Linked DNA regions of Homo sapiens: region 1 is linked to region 2. Evidence: fine-mapped expression QTL. Tissue or cell type: hippocampus. Region 2 holds a variant in brackets; the other region holds the start of a gene. All regions are shown on one strand. Distances are between the middles of the regions.

What was found. PIP is the estimated chance that this variant, and not a neighbour inherited with it, causes the effect.
Region 1: it holds the start of TBC1D9B, and the variant in region 2 is fine-mapped to the expression of TBC1D9B in hippocampus (GTEx, PIP above 0.99).

What each region holds. Positions count from the first base shown.
Region 1 is chr5:179,904,785-179,912,884 of GRCh38, reverse strand. TBC1D9B (TBC1 domain family member 9B) reads left to right here and starts at 4,988. Exons shown (of 21, transcript NM_015043.4): 1 at 4,988-5,181; 2 at 8,073-8,100. The coding sequence starts at 5,064. It also overlaps a transcript of RNF130 not described here. RefSeq lists silencers at 4,837-4,996, 5,067-5,126, 5,137-5,276, 5,327-5,376 and an enhancer at 5,257-6,034.
Region 2 is chr5:180,095,709-180,103,808 of GRCh38, reverse strand. It overlaps RASGEF1C (RasGEF domain family member 1C), which reads left to right. Exons shown (of 14, transcript NM_175062.4): 13 at 1,666-1,738; 14 at 2,284-3,014. The coding sequence ends at 2,308. Among named protein-coding and RNA genes, the nearest start is that of RNF130, 28 kb to the right of the region's middle. The variant A/C (reference allele first, on the strand shown) is at 4,180.

The DNA of each region.
Region 1 (8,100 bases), 190 kb after region 2:
ATTCAACCCAACACAGAGTGAATTCAAATTTGCTTTTGGAACAGCCTTTATCTCCAATTAAGTGCAAGTATATTTACACTATGTGATATTAAAGGACTTCTCCAATGACTGGGAGGTACTGAACCAAGATGTTTGTAAAGAAACGGTGGGGTGAGGTGGTTAGGTAGAATATACCGTCCTGGCCATTTCTCTTCCTTCAGGCGAGTAAGCGCTCCTTCAGCAGAAAGGCTGCGGATTGCTGGCTGTGCTCTGTGGACTGGGCCAGTAGGTGTGGCCCAGGTCCAGGTCCTGGCACCTCTGCTGAGTGCCCAGCCTGAGATGACACATGCCATCCTGGAGAGAAGCAGAGAGGGTGCTGTCTCCAGGCGTTCTCCAGACAGCCTGGGCCTGGCTTGCTGAGCCAGCTGCAGGAGGGGATCTCCTGACTGGGGCTTGGGACCAGATCTGCTGCAGAGAGGCAATAACTCTGTCTAAAAAGAAAACTTGTCCCGTGTGATTACAAAAACAGGAAAAGGCTCCAAGCTAGGAAATGAGATTTGAGGTATGGAGAACATTCTCACCTGATGGAAGCATCCTGTTCCTGTACAGGAGGAGGAGCTGGTGCAAGCCCTAGGCCACATATGTCACAGTTGTTTTGGACCCTCCGTAGCTTTTATACTCATAAAATATTAAAGTTGCCCCTTTCATATTTGGGTCATTGAAAGAGCCCACCGTACTCTAGGTTCCTGCTCACTATGCACAACATCTCAGAAGATGGCGTACAAAACTATTTTTCTAACTATAGCACAGGTAATGTGGGGGTGGGGAGGCTTGGGATATACCTAAATGTGGCAAATGATTTATCTTCCACCTTGAGGGATGAAAAGGAAACTATGCACTTGAATTTTAATTAAAATTTTAATTTAATTCATTGGATAGCTTGTGCCAGAAAGAACAGTCAATATTCAAGAAGCAAAACTGACGATTAGCTCAGTTTCGGGCCTCCCTGTCGGGGGAGTTTTCTTGTCTGGAACACAAACACCTACAAGTAGAGTGTGAGCTGGTTCTTGACAATCAGATCTCATCAACCCTTTGAAATGTTCTGGGCAGCACAGCTCCTTGGTCTGCATGGTTGGTGTAAGTATAATCAAGTAGTGAAATTGTATGGTATATACCTATATGCCAACAGTGTACACCCGTATGTGCAGAATTTGCTAATATAACCATTTCAATAAAAACCTATTGAAAAAGCTGATTTGACCACATGGAGTATTGTTGGTGGTGACGTGTATCACTGAGGACTCTCTTGGTTACAAATGACAGAAAACCCAGCCAAAACTGGCTAACACAAAAGGGGAATGTCATGGCTCCCAAAAGCCAAAATGCCCAGGGGTGCCTATGTCAGGCTTGGTGTGATTTCACCCTCAAATGCTGACACCAAGACACATGCCAACTTTGCTCCTCATTGGGAACCCCATCCCCAGGCTCAGGGTGGCAGTAGCTCCATCAACACAAGAGCCAGTCCCCAGGAGGTGGCCCAGGTCAGGACGGTATTTCCCTGGCCCAACTGACTTGGTTGGAGGCACATGGCCATCACCAGCCAGCCCCTGTGATCACAGATAGAATGCACCGATGGCCTCAGCTGGCATGGGCTCCACCTTCACAGCCCAGGAGTCCATGTGTCTTCACCTGACAGACAAGAGCTGAGCGTTCTAAGGCACGGTTCCCACTGCAGAAAAACAAACGACACTGCACAGACGGGAGAAGTGAATGCTGGGGGCAAAGGCAGCACGTGTCTGACACGTGTGGAAAAGCACTGGAGCCAGAGGCCGGGTGCAGTGGCTCACGCCTGTAATCCCAGCACTTTGGGAGGCCGAGGCGGGCAGATCACTTGAGGTCAGGATTTCGAGACCATCCTGGCTAACATGGTGAAACCTCCTCTCTACTAAAAATACTAAAATTAGCCAGGCATGGTGGCACGCACCTGTACTCCCAGCTACTTGGGAGGCTGAGGCAGGAGAATCGCTTGAACTTGGGAGGCAGAGGCTGCAGTGAGCCAGGATCATGCCACTGCACTCCAGCCTGGGCGACAGAGTGAGACTCCGTCTCAAAAATAAAAAAATAAAAAAATTTTTTAAATGGGCAAAGGACATTTCTCCAAATAGACATTTCTCCAGATAAAATATACAAATAACCCAAAAGCCCATCATCAGTCATCAGGGAAATGGAAATCCAAACCACAGCGAGATACCATTTCCCACCCTCTAGAAATGAGCATCAAAAAAAAAGAAAGACAATAACAAGTGTTGACAAGATATGGAAAAACTAGAACTCTTTTTTTTTTTTTTTTTTTTGAGACGGAGTCTCACTCTGCTGCCCAGGCTGAAGTTGCAGTGGCGTGATCTCGGCTCACTGCAACCTCCACCTCCCGGGTTCAAGCAATTCTCCTGCCTCAGCCTCCCGAGTAGCTGGGACAAGCATATGCCACCACGTCCGGCTAATTTTTGTATTTTTAGTAGAGACGGGGTTTCACCGTGTTAGCCAGGATGGTCTTGATCTCCTAACCTTGTGATCTGCCCACCTCGGCCTCCCAAAGTGCTGGGGTTACAGGCGTGAGCCGCCGCGCCCTGCCTAGAACTCTTACACCCAGCTGGTGGGCATGTGGAATGCTACAGCTGCTTTGGAGCGCAGTGTGGTCACTGCTTAAAAAGTTAAACATAGCTGTACCACATGACCCAACAATACCACTCCTCAATATATGCCCAAGAGAATTAAAAACACATATTCACACAAAGACTTGTACACATGTTCATGGCAGCATTATTTATAATAGACGAGGGGTAAACAATCCAAATGTCCATCCAAATGAATAAAATGCGGTGCATCCATACCGTGGGGTACTATTCAGCCATAAGGAGGAATGAAGCATCAATACGTGCTACAACGTGGGTGAACCTCGAACACATGATGGGAAGTGAAAGAAGACAGACACAAAAGACCACATATTGTAAGGTTCCATTTATATGAAGAAATGGCTAGAATGGGAAAAATGTATAGAGACAAAATAGATTGATGGTTGCCAGGGCAAAGCCGGGGGGAAGTGGGGAATGGCAGCTAATGGGTAAGGGGTTTCTTTTGACTTGATAAAAATGTTCTGGAATTAGTGATGATGGATGCCCAGCCTAGTGAATATACTAAAAACCACTACGTTTTGCACTTTAAAAGAGTGAACGTTACGGAATGTGACTTATATCTCAGAAAATCAAAAAGAAGTAAGCTTAGCACGCACATACTAAGTGATCGATAAATGTTTGTTCTTTTTCTTCTTATAAAAAACCATTCTCGAGGAGTGGTCTCCAGGTCAGCAGCATCAACATCACCTAGGAACGAGTTAGCAGTGCAAACACCCTGGGAGGGAGGGGGCAGCAACCTGTGTGGCTGTTTTTTGTTTTGTTTTGTTTTCAGATGGAGTCTTGCTATATTGCCCTGGCCGATTTTGAACTCCTGGCCTCAAGTGATCCTACCACCTCAGCCTCCCAAGTGGCTGGGACTACAGCAGCCTGTTTGAATCAGCCTTCCAGGTGATCCTAATGTATACCCAATTTGAGAACCACTGGGATTAAGGAACAAGACGACTCTTTACCTCCTCTCAGGGTGTTAAAAAGTGCAGTTCTTCCAAATTCTTTCCCTCTAGAGAGCACAATGACAATATTAGTTCAGACTTCCAAGGTGTTGAAGAAAGCCCGCCTCTGCATCTTGAAAGCTGATTCCTATATCCAGCAACATTGAAGAAGACTGCAGATCACTCTGGGTGTCAACTGCATGTACCTACATCCATCGCACCAAGATTCTTGAGTGCCAATCACAGAAACCCACCTGGAAGTCAGGTCCAGCTCCAAGGATGGTTTAACTGCCCCCTTCCCTTTGCCCTCTAGCCAGACCCTGGTGAGGGTTCCAGCCAGCAGGGTGACCCCACATCCCAGTCGACCCCGGACAGGCCCCAGGCCCGTTGTCCCAGGTGGAGTTGACAGCCCCCTCATGCAGAAGGCTGTGTGTGGACTGGCGCTGCCCCTGCAGGCCAACACTGGGAGACCAGGGACCCGCATTCGCCTGCAGCCAGCCTCACACTTGCGCAGAAGCCGCCACTGGGCCCAGGGCCAGTCCAGACCCCATCCCCAGGGCCGGCCAGCCTCTGTGACCCGTCTGTCAGGGGAGGGGCAGCACTGATTTCCAAGGATGCAGCCCGTATCAGGGCCTCCTGGCACCTGCCCTGCGCTGGAAGATTCTTCTAGTCTCCCGGCCCCAGTGTCAGAATTCTGAGAACTGGCCGGGCGCGATGGTTCACTCCTGTAATCCCAGGACTTGGGAGGCCAATGTAGGCGGATCACCCGAGGTCAGGAGTTCGAGACCAGCCTGGCCAACATGGTGAAACCCCGTCTCTACTAAAAATACAAAAAAATTAGCCGGGCGTGTTGGCGGGAGCCTGTAATCCCAGCTAAAGAGGCTGGGGCAGGAGAATCACTTGAACCCGGGAGGCAGAGGTTGCAGTGAGCTGAGATTGCGCCACTGCACTCCAGCCTGGGCGACACAGCAAGACTCTGTCGAAAAAAAAAAAAGAAAAGAAAGCTGAGAATTAGGAGGAACTGCAAACCCTTTCCAGGCGCCCTTTGCAGTGCTAACACGCCCCGGGTTGCACGCGCAACCAGCCAAAAGCCGCCAAACTCTGCTTCTTGACATCCTTCTCTCACACTGCACAGCTTTCAAAACGCCAGAAGCCCTGCTCTGCACAGCGGCTCCCCTGTCTGCGGACTGGGCCGTTCCGTTCTGGACCCAGGCCGGAGGCCGTGGGCTGCACCGCTCCAGGAGGCCAGGCTGGCGCGCGCCCGAGGCCGGGGCTGAGGGGGCGGCGCGGAACTCGGGCCGCGTGCGGGAGCGCCACACGCCCGCCAGGGGGCGCCGCCCGCCCGGCCCCGCCCCGCCCCGGCCCGCTCCGCACGCTCCGCTCCGCACGCTCCGCTCCGGGACGCCGACGGCGGCGGGCGCTTCCGTCTCGCGGGCCTCGGCCCGGTGCGAGCGGCTCCGCGATGTGGCTGAGCCCGGAGGAGGTGCTGGTGGCCAATGCGCTGTGGGTGACGGAGCGGGCCAACCCCTTCTTCGTGCTGCAGCGACGCCGGGGCCACGGCAGGGGCGGCGGCCTTACGGGTGAGAGGCGCGCGGGCGGCCGGGCCTGTGGGCGCCGCGGCTGGGCTGGCGGCGGGGCTGGCGGCGGGCGGCGGGCGGGTCCGGTTCCGGCCCGGCCTCGGCGCGTCGCGGCGGACACGCACGCCAGCGCGCGGCGGGGCGGGGGCGCGAGGCCAGGACCCGGGAGCCGGGCGCGGAGGGGCCGGGGCGGGGAGGCGAGGGGCTGGCGGGAGGCGAATGCGCCCTCGGCGGGCTCTCCTCAGGTCGGCTTGGGGCGGCCAAGTGGAGACCGGCGGCGGCTTCTGCCCGGATTCGGCGCCCGCGAGCCCCGGGGGCCGTGCAGCTTCCCGGGATCTCACCGCCGAAAGTTGGCGAGACCGCCCTGTCCTCATCCTCCACCTCAGTTTCCCCAGGTGCCTCTAAGGGGCCAGGTGACGCCAGCGCACGTTTTCTTTTGCCCTCTTCTTCGTGCCCATCTCACCAAAGTATCGCCCTTTTAGCAAGATCAGAGGTCCCTGGAGCTGGCCGCACCCCCATTCCCCCAGCTTCTCCTCCCCCACCTTTCCTGCTCCTGGCTGCTCTCAGAGCTGCGCACCCAAGGCTGTGGGTAGCGGCACAGGGTGTTCCTGCAAGCTCGCCAAGGTGGCCCTTTGTGGGCCCGGGTGCCACCATCACACAGGATGAAGCTGGACAGGCACCCTTGGAGTCGTGCGGCCTGTGGGATCCAGGGGAGGCCCACAGGCCACTCCCTCCGCAGGTGGTGTCCGGGGCCCCTCATGCTCCAGGGCCTGCGCCCAGCACTGCAGGAGCCCGGCTGGCTCGGGCTCAGTGCCTGTGCTCTTCGGGGCACCGACTGTTGCCCTACAGGATTGCGGTCCCAGTGTTGCCAGGTCGTCCAGTTTATCAAGAGCATTTTCTGTGAATCATCCTGATTTTCAGTGTGAGCAGCTAATAGCCAGATGCAGACGGAGGCTTCTCCTGGGCCACGTTTCTTCATGTGGAAGAGACTGTTCTGTTCCCAGAAACACTCAGTGTTCCCTTCAGCTTCGGGTTCCCTCCCAGTGGGCTTCAAGGATCTCGGGCTCCTGTTCTGGACCCGCCTCCTAGATCCAGCTGTTCAGTCGGCAGCCCCTGTGGCTAACCTCGAAGCTACTGCAAGCCCGATGAAGAAAGCGAGGGACCGGCACCTTTTCTTCCGCCAGCGCGCCAGGGTGTCATCAGCGCGCCAGTGTGTCATATTCGCTGGTGTACTTGAAACACTTGTGCTGTGCTCGGCAGGCTTATGTGGGTCGTCTCATTGAACGGGCGGGTGCAGGTGCAGCCCGGTCTCTGTACACCTCCTTCCTGCGGGCTCTTCTCCTTTCCACCTCACTCTCCGTGTCCCCTGGGACCGAGCTCCCAGGGTCCCCCCAAGGGAACCCTTCTTTGAACCCTCTCCCAATCTCTCCCCACTGCTAGGTTTGGTGTGTCCTGCTGTGCCCTCTGACAGGGCCTTCCCTGTGCCATCATGGGCATCGTGGCCTCCTGAGTACTGTCCTCCCTGAAGAGGAGCAGACAGGGATGTGGTTTTATCCAAGCCATCTATTAAAAACATGCCAACCTAGACTTTTCATTAAAGAATCTGAATAGCTAGCTTGGCCAACATGGCAAAACCCCGTCTCTACTAAAAATATAAAATTTATCCAGGCATGGTGGCACGCGCCTGTTATCCCAGCTACTCGGGAGGCTGAGGCACGAGAATCGCTTGAACCCAGGAGGTCAAGGTTGCAGTGAGCCGAGATGGCGCCATTGCACTCCACCTTGGGCGACAGAGCGAGACTATCTCAAAAAAGTATTAATGGACTATGAAACAAAAGTGTTAAAGTTGAATAACAGCAATAAAAATTGTTCTGACATCAACAGGAAAAATGGTAACAAAATATTTTCAGATCATGCCAAAAGCAGCACTTCGTTAAAAGGAAGAAAAAATTTCAAGTAAAAACAATAAACAGGTTTTTAGATTGCTCGATAATTCAATTAGTGAATCAAACAATGATAAAAGCTATATATTTCCTGCTGATTTGTCAGGAAATAGTGACACTGACAAAGATAGCATTACCTAAAATATAAAAGCAAAGATAGCGTTGCCACAGACTGCTTAATGTGTGTCATCTATCAAAGGGGTATATGTGATGAGAAGAAAAACTTGAAATGCCCTCAAATGTTTCAGTTCAGAAATGAAAAAACTTTATATTTTCCCAAATTTGACAATTCTAAAGATCGACTTCTTCAGTTATGATTTTTTGAGGCTAAAAGAAACTTCCTTAAACTGTCGGTAATAAAAAATCAGTGAGTCATGGCAAAGGGGAGACATTATCTTTCTGTTCTTGATATGGAAAATAATGTTGCAGAATCATTGTCCTGTGTGTGAAGAAGCGATGAGTACAGGACCAGAACTGTCCGGAAGACGTATTTCAGGAGACGCACATGGCAGTTAGGAAAACATTGTGTTGGTTTTCTGGATTTTGTGATATTTCTGATATTGTTCTTTTTTAACTTTAACGTGTAGCTCTGTACTTTCTCGGTCTAAAGCAATACTTGTTTTGTAGTCTAGTTTTGTATACGTAAAGAGGGCTTCCCAGAATTGTTTAAGCTCTGGCCCCATGAAACTTGTATCTGCCTCTGCCTGCAAGTGTTTCTGAGCCAGGAGAAGAAGCAGATGCTTCCAGGAAGAAGTAGAAGGGGATGTTTTTGATCGGGATCAGACACTGGCTGAAGGCCTTTGACCGCAGGGGTCATTCCGGACGTTTCCCTCGTTGGGCTGGACCCTTTGGGTAGCGTCACCATCCTGTCTGCCTCCGGCCAGACTCAGCCTTCAGGGGCCTCAGTCCGGCCCTCCCCTCACCCTCTATGTCTCTCTGCCCTGTTCCCAGGTCTTCTCGTGGGCACCCTGGACGTGGT
Region 2 (8,100 bases):
TCTGCAAACATTATATTTAACAGCAGAAGATTTAATGCTTTCCTCGTAAGACCAATAACAATGAAAGGATGTTCACTCTTCCCCACTCTTAGTCATCATAGTAATGGAAGAACTAGTTAGTGCGATAAGGCAAGAACAGGAAGTAACACACAAATCAGAAAGAAAAATTAACACTGTCCCTATTTGCAGATGATGAGGAAAAAAAATCCCAAAGAATCTACAAAAACCCCTAGAACTAATAAGGGAGTTCAGCAAGGTTGCAGGATACAAGACACACATGCAAAAATCAACCATGTTTCTACGTATGAGCAATAAACATGTGCACGCTGAAACTAAAATGATAATACCATTTACAGTCACTCACATGAAATATGTAGGTGGAAATGGAACAGAACACGCACAGGACGTGTACGCTAAAAGTTAATGCTGATGTGCCGGGTGCGGTGGCTCACGCCTGTAATCTCAGCACTCTGGGAGGCCGAGGCGGGCGGATCACAAGGTCAGGAGATCGAGACCATCCTGGCTAACACGGTGAAACCCCATCTCTACTAAAAATACAAAACATTAGCCGGGCGTGGTGGTGGGTACCTGTAGTCCCAGCCACTCGGGAGGGTGAGGCAGGAGAATGGTGTGAACCCGGGAGGCAGAGCTTGCAGTGAGCCGAGATCGCGCCACTGCACTCCAGCCTGGGCGACAGAGCGAGACTTCTGTCTCAAAAAAAAGTTAATGCTGATGAAAGAAATCAAGAAAGATGTAGATAAATGGAGACATAGGATGTTCTCGAACGCAAAGACTGCATAGCAAAGGTATTAATTCTCCTCCCAGAATTTAAGTACAGGTTTAATGCAATTCCTACCCAAATCCCAGCAAGACTCTTTGTAAGATAGAGACGAGATTCTCCTAAAATTTGTATCGGAAGTCAAAGGAACTAGAATTGCTAAAACAATCTTGAAAAGGATTCGTGGGAGGAATGAGTCTGCTTGATGTTAAGGCTGATATGATAGCGCTATGGTCGTTAAGACAGCACAGTATTAGGGGAGGGATGGACGCATGAATCAATGGGACAGAATAGAGAACCCAGAAAGAGACCCACGCAAATATACCAGGTGATTTTTGACAAAAACAAAACAAAACAAAACAAAACCCAATGGAGGAAAGCTAGCCCTCCAACAAACAGTGCCGGAGCATCCGGACATCCACAGACCAAAACATGAACCCCAGCCCAAGCCTCACACCTTATACAAATAATTAGCTCAGCATGGATCACAGACTAAAATGTAAAATGTAAACCTATACAGCTTTTAGCAGGGAAAAGCAAGAGATAACCCTCAGAATATAGGGCTAGATAAAGAGTTTCTTATTCCAAATATGCCACTATGATATGGCCCAGCCATTGCATTCTTGGGCAGTTAGTTATTCCAGAGAAATAAAGACTCATGTATTTATACATCATTTGAAGTGAGTTTCACACAAAAGCAAAAGCCCTCACGCAAATGTTATAGAACTACTGTCGTTAAGACAGCACAGTATTAGGGGAGGGATGGACACATGGATCAATGGGACAGAATAGAGAACCCAGAAAGAGACCCACGCAGATATAGCAGGTGTAGAACAGGTTATTATCATCAACCATAATTGTGAAATTTCACTTCATTTTCTGTCTAGGTCTTTATTTGGCTTCTTACGAAAGTGAGAGCCCAGAGAACCAAACAGAAAAAGAAAGATGGAAAGCTCTAAGGTGAGTCTTCCTGCCAAGGTGGGGCCTGGGGGCTGCTTGGGATGGAAAGCTCTAAGGTGAGTCTTCGCGCCGAGGTGGGACCCGGGGACTGCTTGGGACCAGGACAGGGCCGAGGGGCTTCAGAGATACCCGGCTCACCAGCCTCCTGGGAGCCTCAGCAGCCCACAGTGGGGATCAAGCCACAGTCATAGGGGTGAGGAGAGGAGGCTGAGCCTGTGACTCCCCCACGGCTGGTGGCTGCCTCTGTGTGCAGTCAAGATGCATGTCCCAGGGACAGGGACTCCCAGTCTATATTTGTATGCCAGACAGTGGGACACACACCCCACCTCCTTCTTGCTCGGCGTGTTAACACGTCCAAGTGGCGGTCGGAAATGATCCATAGCAATGGACTTCGAGGGCTGAGCCCCAGGGATTTGCAGAACACCCCTCTGGGGCAGGAGGCTGGCTCTCCTCAGCGCACTGAGAAAGTGGCTGTGCTGGAGAGCAGTCTAACTGGGGTGGGGAGCTCCAGGCTCTCACCGCTCCCGACATGCTTAAATCTGCAGATCTTCTATTTTGGGGAAGACATGAAAGCGCTGAGCTGAGGGACGAGGAAGAGCTGGAGCCCGCAGAAGCCGTCCACAGCCCTGCCTCAGTGGCCCAGTGGGCAGAGGCCAGGGAGTGCCTCACTATTTTGCAAATGCCGACCCTGTGGCCTGCTGCCCGCCCCCCCCCCCCCCACAGTGGCCATACGGGCACAGGAGACCTTTTATGGGACTTTGGCCCTGGCAGGACCCAGGGCCTCCAGACGTGCGGGCGGCACATGCCTTGGGGACATCCTGCCTTCAGGACCGTGGGGCCTGGTCAGTCTGTCCATCCTCGGCAAGGACACAACACTGCCCCAGAGGGTGGGACCACTGCAAGCTCGAGACCTTGCTTGGTGACATGTGCCACTTTGGCCACCACCCACAGTCTGTCACCACGTGGCTTGGGAACTTCTGGAGCCACAGCAGGCATCACGGTGCGACGTGAGATGCCTGCGCCAGCCCCGAGCCCACTGGCAGCCACTGCCATTCCACCCATGGTCCCTCACCCTGCCCTGCCGACGAGCTTGTCTCTGCAGCCCCAGGTACCCCCTTCCTGGATGCTGCTGGCCCCAGGAGATAGCTTTCCGGTGACAGCTGTGGAACGCGTCAACAGGACAAACTGGACACATGGAGTTACAGTGTGTACACGGCAGTCCCGCCACCCAGCCCCCTTGTAAACTCTAGTCACTATAAACACACCCGTACGCCTATCCATGTCCACCCCACGTCCACCCCATGGCAGGTTTTCAACTCAGCCCGGGGACTGCTGTAGCCACAGTTCAGGCATGGGACTGGGTAACTGTTTCCCATCCAGAGACCCCGTGTCGTGCTTACAGAGCCTGGTGCGTGGGGGATGCTCAGTTAACCTTTGGTGAGGGATACCCACAGCCTTGCCTGGTGCCCCTTGTCTAGAGCAGGGCATGAGGAAGCCAACAAAACCCCCTTGGCCCACCAGCAGGCCCCTCCCACAGCCCCACCCTGTCTGTTTCCAGCCCCTCAAAAACTGAGCCAGCAAGCAGTGGGCCGGGGAGCAGCCGAGACCCCACCTGACACGTGACAAGGTCATCTAGCCAGGAAGTCAGGGAGTGCAATTTGTACCCCCTTTGCTGGTCAGGGCCTGCTGGGTGGCGGATGGGTTGAGGAGGGAGCGCTGGGGTGCACTGACCCACCCCTGGCCTGCTCTAGGCCATGTCAGGCCCCTCAGCGGTGGAGTCCCACTCAGTATCAGACTTGGCTGTCCTGGACTTGGGTCCTATCTGGGGAACGGGCAGAGACAGGGCCACCAGCAGCCGGTGCCTCAGCCAACTCAGGGATTCTGCCTGGTGAGCCAGGACCACAGCAAGGCCCCAGAAGGGCCCGGCAGAGGCATGGGGCCTGCACATCGGGGCCAAGCAGAATCTGCCCTGCACCGCCCCAGCCCACCTCTTCCATCTGAGACCCCAGGGACGGCAAGCAGTGTGGAGAGGTGGGGGCAGGGCTCCCGCAGGGCCTGGGCAGAGCCCTGGGGGCCAAACCCCAGGAGTTTGGGGGGTTCCAGGAGCTGGTTAGAGCCATCGTCTCACCCTCATCCCTACCTGGCACCCTCAGTCCCTGGCACCCCTTGGGCAACATGAGAAAAGCCCCCTCCAGAGGTCAGCGGGGATCGTCCCTGCCTCCTGGCCACACCAGTATGCTGTTCCCACTGCCTGACATGCTGTTCCCCACCTTGTCGATCCAGTCAGAGCTGCAGCCTCAGGTGCAGGGCCCATCTCCCAGAAGCCGTTCCTGGCAGCAGCCCCCAGTGGCCCAGCGCAGGATGGGTATCAGGAGGATGGCCAGGTGAAGCTGGGTGCCCCGAGGCTCACCCCAGCAGGGGAGGCTCTGGGGCAGCAGGGA[A/C]GGAGGCAGCCCACAGCCAGCCCCGTGGAGAAGGCAGGGCTGGGGGCTCAGGCTGAGCACATTTGTGCCTCAGGATCCTCCAGGGGGCCTTCAACCTGGCTCTGCACCCCTCTGAGCAGCTGCTGTGTGCCAGGCCCTGGTGCAGCCAGAGGGCGTGAGCTCCCTCAGAGGACCCACCCAGACATGGTGTGGCTTCTCCAGGTGCAGCCTCGGAGCCCAGGGAGGCCTTGCTCACAGCCACACGGTCTGCTCCTTGGCTCATGGCCCTTCCCTGCAGAGGCGTCTTTGTCCTCCTGTAGTCCTGGCTCCAGCGTCATGGCCAGCCAGATGGGACGGCCCCCAGGGGCTCCACAGGGCAGGGCCTGTGCCTGTGGGGCAGGTGTCAGCAGCGCAGGTGGTGCCCAGGACTAATGCCTGTGAGCTCGGCGTGGCACCAGGTGATGCGAACCCCTAACACCACTGCGAATCCCTAACACCACTCAGTCGAACCGCAGGCATGAGGCAGGGCCTGGCCATGGGCTCTCCTTCACCGCCTGGGCTTCTTCTCCAGGGAGGGAGCTGGGGTGGCATGGAGCCTGCAGACCGGAAGATTCTTCCCTGACTGGGGCTTGCCTCAGAGGCCCTGGGCCTGGCTGGGGTTCCATATTGATTCATTCTCACATGGGGGACCCCTCGGTTCTCTGAAATCCCTGCCCCCCATCACTGCATCACTGGGCACTGCTGCCCACCCCAAGCAGTTCCTTGGGAAATGGTGTCTTGGTTCTGGCTGCTGTAACAATACCAGAGGCTGGTAATTCATACACAACGGGAATGCGTTGCTCACAGTTCTGAGGGCTGGGAAGTCCAAGATGACGGCACCGGCTGATTCAGTGTCTGGCCCCTCACAGGTAGTGCCGCCTGGGTGCCCTCACACGGAAGGGGGATGCAGCTGCCTCCAGCCCCTCTTATGAGGGCGCTAAGCCCATTCACAAGGGCACCACCCCCATGACTTACCCACTCCCCAAAAGACCCCACCTCTTAATACCCTCACACTGGGGATTCTGCTTCAACATGGGAATGTGGGGGTCACCAGCATTAGACCAGAGCAGGCATCTCCATCGTGGCCAGCAACTTAGCCTGGGAACCCAGCCGCATCCAGCCCTCCGCAAAGTCCATGCAGCCCCCAGAGCAGAACCCCAGATAACCTCAGAGGTGTGAGTAGGGCTGCCCCAGGGACTGTCACAGTCTCTTCCCTAACAACTCAGGAACAGATAAACAAACGCTGACATGGCCCCTCATCCTTCACATCCCTCAGGCAGGCATCAGACCTCAAGCCTCTGCATCTCCCAACCCTGCAGGGCTCCTGAGTGGTTCTCCAGGAGGGGCAACCCCCTCACCCCTTGGAAGTGCCCCCATGTACCCACAGCACCCTCTGAGCAATGCCCTCCCCAGTTTCTAGCTCCCGACCACTGACTCACCCACCCATGGGTCAAGGAGGTGAGCAGCTGGGATCTCAGTCAAGAGCCCCATTTGGGATGTGCCTCAGCTGGAAGCTCATACTTCACACCTGGAAACTCAAACGCTTCCCCGTGACACCGAGCCTCAGGCCAGCACTTCACCTACAGCCTAACAAACCCCGCCAGCTAGGTGCTGTCACCATCCCCCTTGGCAAGTGGGGAACAGAGGCTCAGAAAGGCTAAGCAACTGCTCATGGACAACAGCATGGAGAGGCGGGGACTGCAGGGTCTGTCACCTCCACAGCTCTGCTCCTAACCATGGTGTGGGGCAGAGGGGCTTCTGCTGGCCACCGGGGCTTCCCATAGTCACACTCAAGGTGACATGCATCTTTCCTCTGCTCCTGCCTCCTCCTCTTTTGCAGGTCCCTGAGCCCCCTGTGTCCCCTGGTGTTTCAGGAGGACCCTGCACTGTCTCATTCATGCTCAAGACAAAATCTGCCACAGCCCAGCTCCCCTCCTGCACCTGCCCCGGCCCTCTGCAGGCCCTGCTGGGTAAAGCCATGCCTCATACCCAGCCATAGAGAAAAGCAGGCCTCACTCCCTATCACGCCACCCTCCATCCCCAGGCATCCAGGCCATGTGGCTCATGGCCCACTACACAGAGTCTTCAGTGAAAAGGCACCATTTTAACTCCCCAGGACTCAGGTTGGGGTCCTGGGGCCCTAGGCCAGGAGATGGATCCAATAGGAAAACCTCGAAAGGCCTGACGAGAGGCTCCTCAACCACAGTGGGGCCCTTGCCTGTGGCTGGGCGGGGTGCCTGACACCGTCCTCTTCAGCATCCCACCCTGCGCCTCCAGGTAGGACCGAAGAGATGGGAAGTTTAAGTGGAATGAAGGGATCTAAGGCATAAGCTACCCCCACTACAGACCAACAGACCTTTACCAAGTGGGCAAGCTGACAGCAGTTCAGCAAGGAGGAGACGGAAATCCCACATGTCGGGGCAGAGAGCAATGGCAGGAAAGAGCAGCAGAGGCCAACGGTAAAGAACCCCACAGGACAGACCAAGGAGCTTGACGTTTACCCCAAAGGCTCTAGGGGAGCCAGTGAAGAGTTCTGGGGGTGGCAGTAACATGGTCAGTTTTAAAAAGATCTCTGATCGCTTTTGACCCAACACTTCCACTTTTACAACCTAAACTCAGCGAAAAAACCTGAGACCAGCATAGTATTTGCATAATGGAGATGTCACGAGCGGCCTCCATCATCCTGCTCCTGTACCAGCACGTGGGTTTGCTCCTCAGCCCAGCCCAGCACCTGGAGAGCCCAGTCGAAGGCCCTCAACCAGCAGGAGCCCGAACCCTTTCTTGCAGCCTCAGAGGGAGATGGGTGTGTGCTCCTGGCCCTATGCAGGATGGGCTGACAGCCAGGGGCTTGGTGGGACAATAAGACTAGTGCACCCACTGGGCGCGGTGGCTCACACCTGTAATCCCAGCACTTGGGGAGGCCAAGGCGGGTGGATCACTTGAGGTCAGGAGTTCAAGACCAGCCTGGCCAACATGGTGAAAACTTGTCTCGACTAAAAAATACAAAAAATTAGCTGGGTATGGTGGCGCGTGCCTGTAATCACAGCTACTCAGAAGGCGGAGGTGGGAGAATCACTGGAACCTGGGAGGCGGAGGTTGCAGTGAGCCAAGATTGTGCCGCTGCACTCCAGCCTGGGGACAGAGCAAGATGCCGTCCCAAAAAAAAAGGAAGGAAGGGAGGGAGGGAGGGAGGGAAGGAAGACAGGAAGGAAGGGAGGGAGGGAGGGAAGGAAGACAGGAAGGGAGGAAGGGAGGGAGGGAGGGAGGAAGGGAGGGAGGGAAGGAAGGAGGGAAGGAAGGGAGGAAGACAGGAAGGAAGGGAGGGAGGGAGGGAAGGAAGACAGGAAGGAAGGAAGGAAGACAGGAAGGAAGGGAGGGAGGGAAGGAGGGAAGGAAGGGAGGAAGACAGGAAGGAAGGGAGGGAGGGAGGGAAGGAAGACAGGAAGGGAGGAAGGAAGGAGGGAAGGAAGGAAAGAAGGAAGGAAGACAGCAAGGAAGGGAGGGAAGGAAGGAAGGAAGACTGGTGCCTCATGGGGGCAGAAAGCTTCTCAATGAATTACTCCTATTGCTTTTGTGGACAGTTGCACCCCACTATTTAAATGATTTACCCTTCTGTATGAAAATATAAACGAAGGCCAGGTATGGTAGCTCACACCTGTAATCCCAGCACTTTGGGAGGCCAAGGTGGGTAAATCACTTGAGCCCAGATGTTCGAGACCAACCTGGGCAACATAGACCCCATCTCTACAGAAAATTTAAAAATTAGCCAGGCGTGGTGGTAATGGTACATACCTGTGCTCCCAGTCACTCGGGAAGCTGAGGTGGGAGGATTGCTTGAGCCCAGGAGGTCGAGGCTGCAGTGAGCTATGATTGCGTCACTGCATTCCAGCATGTGTAGCAGAG